Linked DNA regions of Homo sapiens: region 1 is linked to region 2. A link means that fine-mapping ties the variant in region 2 to the expression of a gene that starts in the linked region. Tissue or cell type: testis. Region 2 holds a variant in brackets; the other region holds the start of a gene. All regions are shown on one strand. Distances are from middle to middle.

Region 1 (8,082 bases), 27 kb before region 2:
ATCCACATGGGTGAGAGCAGGGGCCCTCTGCTTTGAAAAATAACTACTGGAGAGGAAGACTGGGGTGCTCCGGGGTGGGGGCACTCAACTGTCTGATTGACACTTTCCAACGTGAGTGCAGAAGGGCAGCATGGGTGGCCTAGGCTGGGCTTTTTCACATTTCCCCAGGCAGCTGCCAAAGCCCCTGGATTTGGGCATTGCTCAGGCCCCAGCCCAGGGTCAGACCAGGCTGGGGCCAGAACTCCATAAATATCAGACCATAGTTTCATGCTCTTCTCTATTCAAGGCCTGAGGTGAAATGGAAGCCCCAACCAGGAGACAATAATCAAAGGACAAAGCCAAGTTTCTATGACTCTGAAATGGGCCCAGGATCCTTCACAGCATTATTTTCCTTATATCCCCATTCCCTACCAAAGCAAGTACCAGCATGTGGTCTCTACCATGGCAAGACTCCAAAGGACCCATCACCAACCAGGAGCTGGTTTCCCCCTGGAAAAGGAGATGTTTTCCTCTTCCCTCCCACAGCCCCAATCCAGCAGCTCTCCATGCAATGTCAGAATGGCCTGAGATAGGCTGACGACAAGGAAATCACAGAATTGTACATACAGCACAGTACATACAGGCCAGACAGGCACATGCAGGTCAAAAACAGCTTGGGCAGAGGCCCAAGGCAGGGGCTGGTTTGAGGAAGTGGTCATGGCAGTGATCTAAGAGTTTAAAGAGTCTATGGTGGGAAGGGGAGGGGACGTGACATGATTGAGCCCCACTCCAATGATGGTTGATGAAAGGCTGCAAGGGGTAGGAGGTAGGCCTCAGGCACACCACCAGAGGAAGGAGACAGGGACAGACTGATGGGGCAGAGTTGTGGGGTGTGGGGATATTTATGGCTGTGCCCATCCACAGGCAGGCACATGAAGGCTCTTAGGTTTTCCAACTTGGGACTGTTCTTCCTAGGCTCTGTTCCCTGACCTCCCATCTTCCTGCAAAACCCCCTCACTTGGTACCTTCCTCAGCCCCATTCCCCCAGTCTATCCTTCCACAGTCGTCCAAGCTCGGGCTAAGTGAGAACACACTGTAACCCAGTAAATGATCTATTTCACACTGCTGCTATTTACAGTCAAATGCTTATAGTTTTTGATTGGGGAATCTTTGACTTGGAGTCCTGGGGCAGAGAGAATCATCCCTAATGAGTGCTACCTGGGTATGGACACTGAGCCTGATGTTCTTGCACCCTTCAAAGGAACTCTGAAAGCCAAGGCCACCATTTCCTCTGGCCATCCCAGCCCAAGGTCACACACACATGCATGCAGCAGCCCAGGGACATGCAGGACAGCTGGGGAAGGGGCTCATGGCCCCCATCCACCCAGGCACAAATAGTAAACACACCACCTTCTTAGGCTTCAGTCCCCGCTGCATGAGGAGTAGGAAAGGGCAGAGTTAGAGAACAGATGTCCTGGGCATAGGTGTTAAGACCAACTCGGGCTTACACAGGTTAGACGCGGGTAGGGGGGAGTCAGGGTGAGATGAGTAGCCCCTCAAAGATCAGCTTCCAGGATGTTCACACCTTGGCCCAGAGAAGCTGCAGAGTCTGCAGCCCCACCTCACACACATCCTGCACAGAGTAGCAGAGAAGAACTAGGAAGCACTCTCTGCATCCAGCTTAAAACAGGAGGCAGAGGGCCCGGCTCCTTGCCATTCACTTGTGAATAGGAGATTGCTTCTTCCTCTATCTTCTACCTTAACCTTACCCTCAGACCCTTTAGATGTTGGCATCTTTGGGTACCAAAAGGTAGGAAGTTGGCTACACTACTAGGGCCAGACCTGTCCTTCCTATCACCCTCAGCTCAATCTCATTTGACCCTGAACTTCTGGAGCCTATGAGTTTTTCCCTTCTACCATCTTTACTGTAACTCTAACACAGCAATTAATCCCCAGAAAGCCTCCTTCTTAGGGAAGTTGGAGAGACTAGAAGGCAAATCAGACTCACCTACTACTTCTACCTGCCTAGCACTGGGTATCCCTCCTCTTTCTCCTTCCCCTCCCTTTATTATTCCCCATTCCCACCCCCAAATCACTCACCAGTTTGCTAGTCTTTGCAGTTGTATCAGTTCCCTCTGTAGAAAGCAAACAGAAACAAAGTGTGTACTTGTATAGAGAGGTAGGGGGAGATATAATAAGGGAATATGGTAGTGACGGAAAAAAATCTTAGGATCTACTGTGGCCCCATGTTATGAGGAGAAGTCCTGGGGACTCCTCCTGGCTATGGGGAGGCAACTTTAAGTGGGTGGTTGTTACCTCTTTTGAGGACTTTTGAAGCAGAAGAATCAGGTGTCTCTGGGGAAGTAGTATCTGCTCCATCTTCAAATACCTGGATCTGAGGCCAGATTCAATATAGCCAGATCAATAGTTTCAATATAGCCAGATCAAGGACGGCTGTAATATGGGCCCCTCCCCAGGCTCCAAGCAAACCAAGAGTACAGGGCAGCTTCCCTAAGGATGCATCTTCAATCTTCCCTCCCCCACTACCTTCCACTCTCCCAACCAGAGGCTTATGCCCATGCTCAGGAAAACGAAGTACCAACACATCAGCTGCACATGCGACAGACATGTGCACACATGCACAGACACAAAAGAAGGGCGTGAATACCTGGGACTGGCGCACAAAGATGCCATGCCCTTCATCACAAGTGAAGTACTTCCTGCCTTGAACAGTTCCATCATTTTTGCCCTTTGCTTCATCCAGAATCACGCCTACCCATTTGCCAGTGGCAAACAGTGTGGCTCCAACATAGGCCACAGTGCCTCGGTGGCCTTTTCCAATCACCTCTACACGGGAGCCCACCCGCAGAGGCCGGGCGCTTGCCTCCGCACTCATCCTGCTGCCGCTGGGCGTCTGAAAGACACAGGTAAACACAGACAGTTAGAGGCCTCAGATCAAAGGTGGCATTCTTATGTATAAGAAATGCCTCAGCCAAGATGCTGGACTGAAAAACAACCAGAGTCATTTTCTTAAACCCCATTTACAGAATTGGGTGGACCCCCAAATTCCCCTTTGAAAAAATGCCAATGATATTCTAAGATTTCTCCAAATTCCTCTGGAATCTGCTAGAATTTTTAAGTTTATATTTTTTATAACAAATCAGAATTCATTGACCAGTCTGTGAATGTCACCACATGGCTGCTTTCTCAGGAGCACTGTCTCCTTAATTCTCTTCTCAGGAGGGGAAATAAGATCAAGCAAATAACTCAGTTTAGACCAGGCTCCCCACAACCCAATGCCCTGACTCAGGAGTCTGAGCTGGGAAGACAGGCAATTCAGTGGGTGATCCTACAGAATCCTGTTTCCCCTTCCACTGTCACTTGTCTCCTCTGTGTTTCAAATGGTTTTCTTAGGCCTCACCCTTTCAGAGGCACACAATTGTGCCTCCTTCCAGACCCTTAAGTCACCACCTCTCCTTCCTGATCTGACTCCTCCCACCCCCATCCACAAACCCACCATGAAACCCCAGATGCTTCACCACAGCCCATTCAACCATTCAACTCCCCTTCTACCTGGCCTGAGTCTTGTTTGGTCAACTCTCTATCCCCAAGCTCTGGAGATTCTTCTCCATGCTATGTTGCTATAAAAAGGAAAACACAGGCCAAGTAAATTGGGTGGATCTACCCCTCGCTCTGTCCCCAAGACTCTGCTCAGTGGTCCAAATGAATGGTTTATCACTCCACAGATGGGCAAGGCAAAACAACAGACTAAGACACTGTCCTTGGGCAGCTCTTAGCTTCGGCACACCCATGATGACTGAACACAATAGAAAATTAGGTCCCAAATAGGCCCATGGTTTAGAAGAAAATCACACTTAGGTCATTTTTAGCAACAGCAACTCCATGAACCAGGGGCCTTGCAGCAAACAGATGAATGAGGCATGATGAAGTGATACCATCATCCTAAAGACTCTATGGGAGACCCTTCTGATACTCTCATTTATAATAGCTTCAGAAGGGAGCCCTGGCAGAGCCAGGGAAGAGCCAGGACACCTCCCAGCCTATCACTGCCTAATTCCCTTCCCCAAACAGCTCATCCAGGAAGGTGAGGATGTAGTTCCCAGAGGCTCCAGGACCCCAAATCACACCTGGAACAGCAGGATGGCTCTCATGGACCTGACAATAAAAGGAATTGCCAGTGATATAAAAGGCTGAACCCAAAGTCAGAGACTCCCCCACTTTCCAACCCCAATAAGCCTCTCAGAACCAGGGGGCCACAACAGTAGCTACAGATTCTATCTCAGAAGAGAAAGAAAGCAAGTAACAAATAACAAAGCAGCTCTTAAGAAAGGCTTCACTGTAAGACCTCTCTGAGCCATCATCCCCATTCTGAGTCCCCAGGATAGTCTGGACCCCCTCAGGAGCCCCTGGTATGAGGGCCAATTAGAGTCAGAGGTCAGGCCTTGCTAGTCCCCATTTAGGGATCAACTCTGTAAAGGGAAGCCTGTCCAGCCTTACACCACCAGGGCTTCGAGGGCTCCTTAGAAAACACAGTCTGAGTGCCCTCAGCTGAGCTCCAGCCTATCTCCCCAGCCCCCACAGCAATGATGTCCACAGGCAGCCAGGCCTTCCCCAGCAGCCCTCCAGGGCCATCCCAGATTAGGGCCACTTACCCGGCTGTACACGTGCCTCTTGCTCTGTGCCATGTTGCTCACCCGGCCTCTACCCCCTCCCCCAGCTGGCCAAAGACAGAGAGAAAAGGTAGAAACCTAGGCAGGAGGGTCAGGGCGCTGGGCCCTCATAGAGGGACACAGGAGTCGTCAGGCACAGCCCTCCCCAGTCCATGGGCCTCACTCGGTGGCCTACACGGGTAGGGGTGGGGGCAGTGATGGGGGCTGAGGAGCAAGTCCCCTCTGCTGCCTGAGGATTCCTGAACCCAGAGACACAGAATCCTGCTTGCCAGCTGATGAGTCTCACTCTGCGCTAGTGCTGCTCTAGACTTGTCAGGAACCGTGCTAGCCTCTGGGTCCTAGTGCCCCCCTGCTTCACGTGGGCCAGAAACTAAGGGCTGGGCATACGCCACAGACCCTCAGCACTCAACTCTTGAATACACTGTCCTAGGGCTGGAAGCAGTCTTGACACGTCCTCCTAGTCTGTACCCACTCACCATCACTGTTCCCCTCTCCCCCAGGATGTAAGGCCTCAGCAGGCCCATAAGCATCAAGTGACACTTCAAAGCGATCAGCTGCCTAGAGCCTCCACACAGCCAAAATAAGGGTCTCTCATCTACCTTTCTGGTGCTCTTCTCTCTCCCTCCCCTCTCTAAACTCTGGACTCAGGGTCCAAATTCATGTGAGTAGGGCCTGGATTTCAATCTCACACTGAGCCAGAGGAGGCAGGCCCTGCCCAGGAGGCAGCAAGAGAAGGGCAGTAATGAAGGCAACTTCACACACATAGCAAAGCAAGCCAAGTACCCTAGCCCCCTCCCACAAGGCTGGCAAAGGTTGCCATAGTCACCCTTCACCCTTTATGGTTGTTATAAGGGGCCAGGTTGTAAAACACAAGAGTATCAGACTCAACTGGATTACTAAAGGCAGTAGTCAAAAGCAGAGAGCCCTTCTTTCTTCTTGTAGCACAAGGCCCAGTCCACCTCAGTCATCTGCCCCTTGTACTCTTGGCCTTGCCTCCTAGCATCTCAGACCCAATGAAATGGTTTATTTTCTACGCTTTTGTATTTCACAAAAATTCTTCAGTAACCATGTATTACTTTTATAATTAGAATTGTTTAATTTAATGAGATTATGCATTCTAATGAGAGGTCTCCAAGGGACTATGTTACCACACTGCTTTCATTCACTGGCCCATCTATCATGGGCTAGAAACCAAAAGACCAGGGTCCCTGCCCCTACACAGCCAACAAGGTTGGCCTGGGGTCTGACCTATGGCTCCACTGAGTATGGTATGGATCTAGTTCCCTTGGGCCTAGGGACGCCTGTCTTTTCTGCACTGGGCTTACTTCACTGGCAGAACAGTGACTTTACCCCGCTCTACCCTCTTAAGATAGGCCAGGTAGCCCAACAGGAGAATGACAGCCAACATTCAGAAATATGGCCCCAAAACACAATTCCAAATCTTCAGTCCTGGCCAGACCCCCTAGGAAATAATCTCTCTCCTCCCTGCAAAATCTCCATGTCGCCCCCTCCTTTCCCTATTCGCCATTACACAGGTGGGCAGGGCCAGGCACATCCTTGCAGCCTGGACCTCACATGTTCGGAGCACTTTACAGTCTATAGGACACCTTAAAAAAAGACATTTTATAGAACCATGGTTGAGTACTGGTTCTAGACTCAGGCTACTTTCCTGGCTTTATCACTTGGTAGCTACATAAACTTGGTCTAGTTACTTAACATCTCTATGCCTCAATTTCCTCATCCGTCATAGGGAAGTAACAAAGAACATATCTCAGAGAGGTATCGTGAGGATTAGCTGAGATAATCCAAACAAAGCATCCAGGACACCGCCTGGTATTTAATAAGTGCTAAATAAAAGTTAGCTAAGAACAATGTCATCATATATAGACATTACAATAACCCCATTGAGAGGTTGGCCAGGGATGATGCTGACAAGGCAACTGAGTCTTTGAGAACTGAGCAACTTCCCTGAAGACACACAGACTGTGAGGAGTAGAGCCAAAACTGGAAACAACCTGACCCAGAGCCCTCTGTGCTTTCTACTACCCCTCACCATTACCACAGACATATCTAGGCTTCCAAGGCCCTGCTCTTCCTGTAGGCCACACTGCCTTAAAAAATTCAAAAGAGCTCAGATCTAAAAATAGCCTCACAACTCACTAACCACATAGGTATCAATAGTCCCCTAATTTCTTGGAATCTGTTTATTTTCCTATGAAATGAAAATAATATCTGCCATATCTACGTCAGTATCATGAGGTTCAAAAAAGCTAAAGCATATACAGGTACCTTGTAGGCCAGGTGTGGTGGCTCATGCCTGTAATCCCAACACTTTGAGAGGCTGAGGCCGGTGGCTCACTTGAGACCAGGAGTTCAAGACCAGCCTGGCTGACATGGTGAAACCCTATCTCTACTAAAAATACAAAAATGAGCTGGGTGTGGTGGCGCATACCTATAATCCTAGCTACTTGAGAGACTATAGGCATGAGAATCGCTTGAAGCCGGGAGGTGAAGGTTGCAGTGAGCCAAGGTCGCACCACTGCACTCCAGCCAGGGCGACAGACTGAGACTCAAAAAAAAAAAAAAAAAAGCACCTTGTAAAAAGTACAGAAATTATAGAACTGCAAAGAATTACCTGACATGATACTAAATGGTATATACATCTACACAATAAATATAAGAAATTATAGACAGGAGAGAGGTGAGCTAGAAAGAAAGGGAGTACCTAAGCATGCCTTGAATTATGGGAATTTTAAAAAATATGTGGAGGCCGGGCGCGGTGGCTCACGCCTGTAATCCCAGCACTTTGGGAGGCCGAGGCGGGTGGATCATGAGGTCAGGAGATCGAGACCATCCTGGCTAACAAGGTGAAACCCTGTCTCTACTAAAAATACAAAAAAAAATTAGCCGGGCGCGGTGGCGGGCGCCTGTAGTCCCAGCTACTCGGGAGGCTGAGGCAGGAGAATGGCGTGAACCCGGGAAGCGGAGCTTGCAGTGAGCCGAGATTGCGCCACTGCAGTCCGCAGTCCCGCCTGGGCGACAGAGCGAGACTCCGTCTCAAAAAAAAAAAAATAAATAAATAAAATAAAAATAAAAAATATGTGGAAAGGCCTACAAAGCCCTGTAACTTGTGAACACAGTATGAACAGAGGCAGAAATAACTTTGCTTGACTAGCGAATAGTAAAGAACCCTAGCTTAGCTGAAGTAACGAATTGTAGATGGTTATTCTATCAAACTATAAGCCTTTTGAAGCATAGCCCACACCTTTTCCTCTTTATGATCCAATAGCCAGTAAGTAGCTCATGGTCAAATATTTATTGAATAAACATTTATTGAATAACATTGCAACATACTGGGAGGTAACTGTGGGTAGGCACGGAGTTTAACATCAGGCAGACAGAGAAGGACTTG
Region 2 (8,101 bases):
AAAAACAAGCCGGGTGGACTGGCTCACGCCTGTAATCCCAGGACTTTGGGAGGCCGAGGCGGGTGGATCACCTGAGTTCGAGACCAGACTGACCAACATGGAGAAACCCCATCTCTACTAAAAATACAAAATTAGCCAGGCGTGGCGGCGCGTGCCTGTAATCCCAGCTACTCGGGAGGCAGAAGAATCACTTGAACCCGGGAGGCGGAGGTTTCGGTGAGCCGAGATCGCGCCATTGCACTCCAGCCTGGGCAACAAGAGCGAAACTCCCATCTCGAAAAAAAAAAAAAAAAGAAAAGAAAAAAAAAGCAATACTATATTTAACAGGATTAAAAAAAACACACAAAAACTGTCGGCCGGGCGCAGTGGCTCACGCCTGTAATCCTAGCACTTTGGGAGGCCGAGGTAGGCGGATCACGAGGTCAGGAGATGGAGACCATCCTGGCTAACAGGGTGAAACCCCGTGTCTACTAAAAACAAAACAAAACAAAAAAAAATACAAAAAATTAGCCAGGTGTGATGGCGGGCGCCTATAATCCCAGCTACTCGGGAGGCTGAGGCAGGAGAATGGCGTGAACCCGGGAGGCGGAGCTTGCAGTGAGCCGAGATCGCGCCACTGCCCTTCAGCCTGGGCGACAGAGCGAGACTCCGTCTCAAAACAAACAAACAAAAAAACAAAACAAAACAAAAAAACTGTCAACCTATAATTCCTTAGCCAGTAGCAAACTGATACCCCAACATTAAGGTGAAATAAATACATCCTCCAACAAATAAAACTGAGGAAGTTTATTATATTAGATCTTATATTAGTTTTCTATTGCTACATAACAAATTACTATAAATTCAGTGGGTGAAGCAACATAGGTCAGGCATGATGGCTCATGCCTGTGATCCCACCACTTTGGAGGCCAAGGCAAGAGGATCCTGTGAGGCCAGCAATTTGAGACCAGCCTGGGCAACATAACAAGAATCCCCATCTCTATAAAAGAAAAAAAAATTTAATTCTAACTCGATTACCTCTGAAAAAATAAAAAATAAAAAATAATAATTAGCCAGAGTGGTGGCATGCTCCTGTAGTCCCAGTTACTTGGGAGGCAGAGAGGCAGAAGGATTGCTTGAGCCAGGAGTGTGAGGTTGCTGTGAGCTGTGATAGTGCCACTGCATTCCAGCTTGGGTGACAGAGAGAGAGCCTGTCTCTAAAAAATATAATAAATATGTTTATTTTTTAAAAAAACACATTTATTATCTCACAGTTTCTGTGGGTCGGGAGTCTGGGTACATGTTTGCTGGGTCCTCCACTCAGGAGGTCACCAGGCTGAAATCAAGAAGTCATCCAGGGTTGAAAGCTCATTGAAGTTCAGGGTCCTCTTTCAAGCTCACTGGTTATTGGCAGAATTCAATTTGTTGTGACTATAGAACTGAGGCCTGGCTCCCAGAGGCCATCTGCCATCCCTGCCATGTGGCCCTCTCCACAGTGTAGCAATTTGCTTCTTTAAGGTAAAGGAGAGAATCTTTCTAACTTCTGTAAAGGCTTGAAGCCTTTTAAAGGGCTCACTTCATTAAGTCAGGTCCACCCAAAATAATCACCAATTTGATTAACTGATTAGAGACTTTAACTACATCAGAAAAATCCCTTATGTCAGGTAAATAACGTAATCACAGGAGAGAAATCCCATCATATTCACGAGTTCTGCTCAGACTTAAGGGGAAGGGGGATTTTATAGGGTACATAAACAAAAGATGAGAACTTTGGAGGCCATCTTAGAATTCTGTCTACCACAAATCCTCACTAAAGTAACTTTCTTTTGAGAGAGAAAGAGAGGGTCTCACTCTGTCACCTAAGCTGGAGTGCAATGACGTGATCACAGCTCACTGCAGACTTGACCTCCTGGGCTCAGGTGATTCTCCCACCTCAGCCTCCTGAATAGCTGGGACTACAGGAACGTGCCACCACACTCGGCTAATTTTTGCATTTTTGAGAGACGGGGTTTCACCATGTTGCCCAGGCTGGTCTCAAACTCCTGTCCTCAAGCAATCCACCCGCTTCAGTCTCCCAAAGTGGTGGGATTACAGGCATGAGCCACTAAGCCTGGCCTAAAGTAACTTCTAAAGATGTACTTCAGGTAGAAGGAAAATAACACAAGATGGAAGATCTGAGATACAAGAAAGAAGAGCAAGCAATATTAAGTATTAACATTAAACATATGAGCAAACCTATACAAGTATCACCTATTTAAAATAATATCTGATTTGTGGCCAGGCATGGTGGCTCACACCTGTAATCCCAGCACTTTGGGAGGCCAAGGTGGGCGGATCACCTGAGGTCAGGAGTTCGAGACCAGCCTCAGCATGGAGATACCCTGTCTCTACTAAAAATACAAAAAAAAAAAAAAAATTAGCCAGGCCTGGTGGTGCATGCCTGTAATCCCAGCTACTCGGGATTACTGAGGCAGGAGAATTGCGTGAACCTGGGAGGCGGAGGTTGCAGTGAGCTGAGATTGCGCCATTGCACTCCAGCCTGGGCAACAAGAGCGAAACTCAGTCTCAAAAAAAAAAAATAATAATAATAATAATAATATCTGATTTGTGAGATTAATAAAATAGTAGAATTAAAATATAGGGTTACAAAAATGTATAAATTCAAAGAGAATTATTAATGTTAAAGAACTCTAAAATCTATGAATTGTTTTAAAGAAGAATGAAGATATTGATTAAAGACATTAAGTTAAATATGTAGATTAAAAATTCTAGGCCGGGCGTGGTGGCTCATGCCTGTAATCCCAGCTACTCGGGAGGCTGAGGCAGGAGAATTGCTTGAGCCCGGGAGGCGGAGGTTGCAGTGAGCCTAGATCGCACCACTGCACTCCACCCTGGGCGACAGAGAGAGACTCTGTCTCAAAAAAAAAAAAAAAAGTACTCATAACAACAAAACTAGGCAGTTTCCACATAAATAAGGAAAAATACAGGCCAATCTCCTTTACTATTTTTTCTTTTTTCTATTTATTTATTTGGGCCAATCTCCTTTATGAACATAGTAAAAAGTTTTAAAAAAAATGAGCAGGCTGTTTAGCAATGCATAAAAAAGGTAACACTATTACAAAGTTGGGTTTATTCCAGAAATGTAAGGTTGTTTCAATACTAGAAAATCTATTAAAGTTTTCTAGAAAAAGAAATATAAGTTGGAATAGTTACAAAGGAAGAAATAAAACTGTGATTATTCCTGGATGATGTGATTTTCCATGTAGAAAAACCAAGAGAATCTATGGACGACTTATTAGAACTAGATAACTTAATAAAGTTGTTTGATATAAGATCAATATGAGGCAGGAGAGGTAGTCAAGGAAGTGACCAAGTAGTCAAGGCAGCAACAGTGGTGACTGTACAATCAACACAATAAACCTCAGCATATGCATTGTAACTGAGCTCATTCAAGCAAAGCTATCTTCAGTAGGGAATTTCCCCTGCAGACAGCATGTGCAGTTTGATTTACCTGTCCTCAAACTGACCCTTTGCTCATTTTATTAGTAAAAAGTACACCCCTGGATATTGAAGATGCTAATGAGACATGTGACATATGAACAAGCATATACAGCTACTGCACATCCACACCCAGAGGACCACCCAGAACATGCTTACTAGTAACACCTCTTCCCACCTCATGAATAATCATGTCAGACTTCCATAAGAGTCTCCCTAGTGCCAGTCTTTGCTGTCTCATCCTTATGAGCAGCCTGCCCTGAATTCTCTCACTTTCGGTGTACTGTCTGTTCTGCACCTACCTTTCAAAATATTCTTTTTCTTGTGCAATAAATTACTCTATGCTGCACTTCTTTTGCTGTGTCCCTTGTTTAAATTCTTTCAAACTAAGAACTGAGGTTTCACACAGCCGTCAACAGATATACACATTTTAAAATATCATTTATAATAGCATAAAAATGAAAGTGCCTGAATATAAATGCAGTAAAACTTCTGTACAAGATCTTTGTGGATAAAATTATTTAAAATTTTGTACAGGTATTTAGAAGATTTAAATAGATATAAGAGTCAACCTTGTCCATGGTTAGGAAGCCTCAATCTCATAAAAATGTCAATCCTCCCAAGTATATCTATAGATTCAATGCAATCCCCAACAGGATGTGTGTGTGTGTGTGTGTGTGTGTGTGTGTGTGTGTGTGTGTGTGTGAAATTCAAAGAGCTGATTCTAAAATTTATATACATGAACAAAGATCCCAGAAAAGGAGCAATGGACTCATACTCCCTAAATTAACTGGATTTTATGACTCATCACCCAGAGCAGGCTCAGTACAATACTA[GT/G]TGGGAGACAACTCCCTGTGAGGTTGGGGTGCTGTGCTACAGGATGTGGTAAATGCCTTAATCCAGAGGTCACTGTGTGGGGCTATCTTCCCCATAGGCAAGAAGCACAGGTCTGGGAATCAAGAGGTACAAATGAAAGTTTCCCTTCTTACTGGTATCCCCAGCGCTCCCCGGAAGGAGTCTTACTTCAAGTTACCACAACCCACCACAGCACCCGGTAGGTTGGGAGATCCTAGTTCCCAAAAGATGAATACTTCCACCGGCTAACTGGCAATAAAGTGGAAGATTAAACTGTGTGAATTATTCTTTTTTTTTTTTCTTTTTGAGACAGGGTCTTGCTCTGTCACCCAGGCTGGAGTGCAGTGGTGCCATCTTGGCTCACTGCAGCCTCGACCTCCCGGTCTCAATGCAGTCCTCCCACCTTCCACTCCCAAATAACTGGGACCACAGGAACACACCACCCTGCTCAGCTAATTTTTGTATTTTTTTGTAGAGATGGGGTTTTTCCATGTTGCTCTAGGCTGGTCATGAACTCCTGAGCTCAAGCAATCTGCCTACCTCAGCCTCCCAAAGCATTGGGATTACAGGTGTGAGCCATCGCAGCTGGCCCCGACTATTCTTGACTCTCAAGTCATCACTAAGCCAACAGGCATAGGAAGTGGTCATTATACTGGACAGTAATTGGTCCTAGAAGCCAGCAAACAAAGGGCATAATCAGAGTAAGTGCTGGAAGTTAGAGGCAGGGTGGCAAGTTAGGGCAGAGGTCACAGAGGGTCAGTCCATCTTGACTAGGCTTGTCAGTCGGACTGAGGCATTCCAGAGGCTCTGGGCAACATGAGGATCCCGAGAGGCTTTAACGGGAAGAGTTATCACACAGGAACTGCTGAAATATTTTCCAGAAATACCACCCGGCTCCTCTGCCAAGCTCAAGTAGAGGACTGGGAGTACACCTTGTTTGAGATCCTGTTGGGAGGGACAAGCGAAAAAGAAGTCATGCCAGGCAAACTTTGGCCTGCTGGGACACACTGAGAAGTTGAGCCCTGCCCCATTCCTCTAGGCCAAACCAGTTCTTTCCCCCACCTACCTTCATGAAGAAGCTGACAAGCTAGAAGAGGAAGCATTATGGCTAAGAGAAATGCCTCATAATCCCCATGTATACAACACCGGGCTCCACAGCATTCACAGTCATTCCTAAGAAGGTGAGACACAAGGAGAGTGCAAAGTGAAGAGAGAGGAGGATGACCGATAAAAGGGGTTAAGTGTAGTTCAGCAGCGTGCAAATCCTACCAAGTCTGTTGGGTAGTGTTGACCAGTGACTTGAGGGTGGTGCAGGGGACACTGGTGCTCTGTAGCTTACCTTAATGGTACCCAAGCCAGTAAGGAAGGATGGGTATTGGAAGTGTTGGGTGAACTGTAGGAGGAACATGGTGGACGATGCTGGTATTGGAAAACACCAGCAGGAAAGAAATATTGTGGGAGATGAAAAGAGTGGGAAAAGGTTGAAATGATGTGAATACAGGGTTGAGAGAAATAGAGGGTACAAAGATGATAGTTGGAGTGGAATAAAATGCTGGTTTGGGGCACATTGGGAGTACTTTATGGCCAGGACATGTTGGCAGGAGATGCGAAAGGTTGGGAGGTGGTGCTGGGAGTGGAGTAAGGGGTGTCAGAGGCAGTTACCTCTTCCTTGAAGTCTCTGGGCAAGCTCTCCAGTGAATGAAGTCAATAGCAGTTTGCTGCAGTCATAGTTTTGGTTAAAGGTCAAAGGGCCTCCAGCCTGTCAGGTGCCCCTCATCAATGTACCCATGTGCATGCCGAACGGAAGACACATTCACCACTGGGGCTGACCCTGCCTGTCGTAGGGCCCCTGGGTAGAGATGGGAGGGACCACACTGCTTCAATCCAAGTTCTAGAGTAAACTCCCATGCTCACTCCCCAACCTGCTTCTCCAGAAGATAGGAGAGCAGGGCTCTCTAAGAAGGGGCAGTGGGGTCCCTATCCAGAAACCTGGGCTAGGCATAGGAGAGCTTAATGTTAGCTGGGACCTCATTTTCATTATTAGCTGCCTTCCTAATGATCTTCTTCTTCTTTCATATTAGTGTTTGGAGTTTTGCCTTTCTTTTCTTCTACTTGCTAGTTGGAGCTACCTTAATTGATCCTCATTTATATGTTTTATTTCACTGATGGCTAAGAAGGGGAAGGAGAAGCTGGAAACACTGTGAAAGTTGCTTTCATGTATTCATACATTCATTCCTTCATTTATCCATCCCACAAATGTTCATTAGGCACCTGGAATATGGCAGACACTAAGCTAGGTGCTAAGGACATAACGGTGCTAGGTTTGGGGGAAAAGAAATATGTGTGCAGAGATACTTGAGAAAATGTTTTTAAAGAAACAAAGCTAGGGAAGGTCATCACTGGAAAACTATTAACAAGCTTAATATTTAAAAAAAAAAAAACCAACTATGTTTCAAACAAAAACAAAATTAAAATCCTAAAGTTAAATCTTAAAAAAAATGTTTAAAATAGTACATAAGTGTTTTAGTCTGTTCTCACACCACTATTAAGATGCTACCTGAGACTGGGTAATTTATAAACAAAAGTGGTTTAATTGACTCACAACTCTGCATGGCTGGGGAGACCTCGGGAAACTTATAATCATGGTGGAAGACAAAGGGGAAGCAAGGCATGTCTTACGTGGTGGCAGAAGAGACAGAGAGCAGGCAGGGGAAAACTGCCACTTTTTATTTATTTTTTATTTTTTATTTTTTTTGAGTCGGAGTCTTGCTCTGTCGCCCAGGCTGGAGTGCAGTGGCGCGATCTCGGCTCACTGCAAGCTCCGCCTCCTGGGTTCACGCCATTCTCCTGCCTCAGCCTCCCGAGTAGCTGGGACTACAAGCGCCCGCCACCACGCCTGGCTAATTTTTTTTTTTGTATTTTTAGTAGAAACGGGGTTTCACCGTGTTAGCCAGGATGGTCTCCATCTCCTGACCTCGTGATCCACCCACCTCGGCCTCCCAAAGTGCTGGGATTACAGGCGTGAGCCACCGCACCAGGTCAAAACTGCCACTTTTAAAACCATCAAATCTTGTGAGATCTCTCTCAATATCACAAGAACAGCACGGGGGAACTGCCCCCATGACCCAATCACTTCCCACCAGGTCCCTCCCTCTACATATGGGGATTACAGCTGGAGATGAGATTTGGGTGGGGACACAGAGCCAAACCATATCAATAAGTATACAAAAAAGTCTGGATTGGCTGGGTGTGGTGGCTGATGCCTGTAATCCCAGCACTTTGGGAGGCCAAGGCGAGAGTTTGAGGCCAAGGTGGGAGGCCTGAGGTCAGGAGTTTGAGACCAGCCTGCCCAACATGGCAAAACCCCGTATCTAGCAAAAATACAAAAAATTAGCCAGGCATGGTGTTGGGCACCTGTAATCCCAGCTACTCGGGAGGGTGAAGCAGGAGAATCGCTTGAACCCAAGAGGCGGAGGTTGCAGTGAGCCGAGATCGCGCCACTGTACTCCAACCTGGTAAACAAGAGCGAAACTCCGTCTCCAAAAAAAAAAAAAAAAAAAAAAAAGTCTGGATTATGTAAAGTATAAAAAATAGTTGTTGTCACATATGAGTTTACAGTATTGTTTTTAAAATGCTAAAACTATTTTGAAATTAAGACTCACTCAGTGGGAGGCCAGCCTGCTGCATGGACTGCTTCCAGCACTGCTCCTTCTCTCCCCAGAAAAAAAAATTAATACAAAATAAAATTTAAAAATTACAAATTACAAAT

Direction of the effects. Positions count from the first base shown, and alleles are read on the strand shown. Sizes are in standard deviations (SD) of each study's normalised expression.
In carriers of allele GT in region 2, the expression in testis of the gene that starts at base 4,959 in region 1 tends to be higher than with G alone (moderate effect, 0.52 SD a copy in GTEx).

Evidence for each region. PIP is the estimated chance that this variant, and not a neighbour inherited with it, causes the effect.
Region 1: it holds the start of DCTN1, and the variant in region 2 is fine-mapped to the expression of DCTN1 in testis (GTEx, PIP 0.97).

Annotation. Positions count from the first base shown.
Region 1 is chr2:74,375,353-74,383,434 of GRCh38, forward strand. It overlaps DCTN1 (dynactin subunit 1), which reads right to left and starts at 4,959. Exons shown (of 32, transcript NM_004082.5): 1 at 4,653-4,959; 2 at 2,648-2,893; 3 at 2,296-2,374; 4 at 2,080-2,114; 5 at 1,390-1,410. The coding sequence starts at 4,685. RefSeq lists an enhancer at 4,760-5,271.
Region 2 is chr2:74,402,709-74,410,809 of GRCh38, forward strand. No RefSeq gene overlaps it. Among named protein-coding and RNA genes, the nearest start is that of C2orf81, 15 kb to the right of the region's middle. The variant GT/G (reference allele first, on the strand shown) is at 4,314.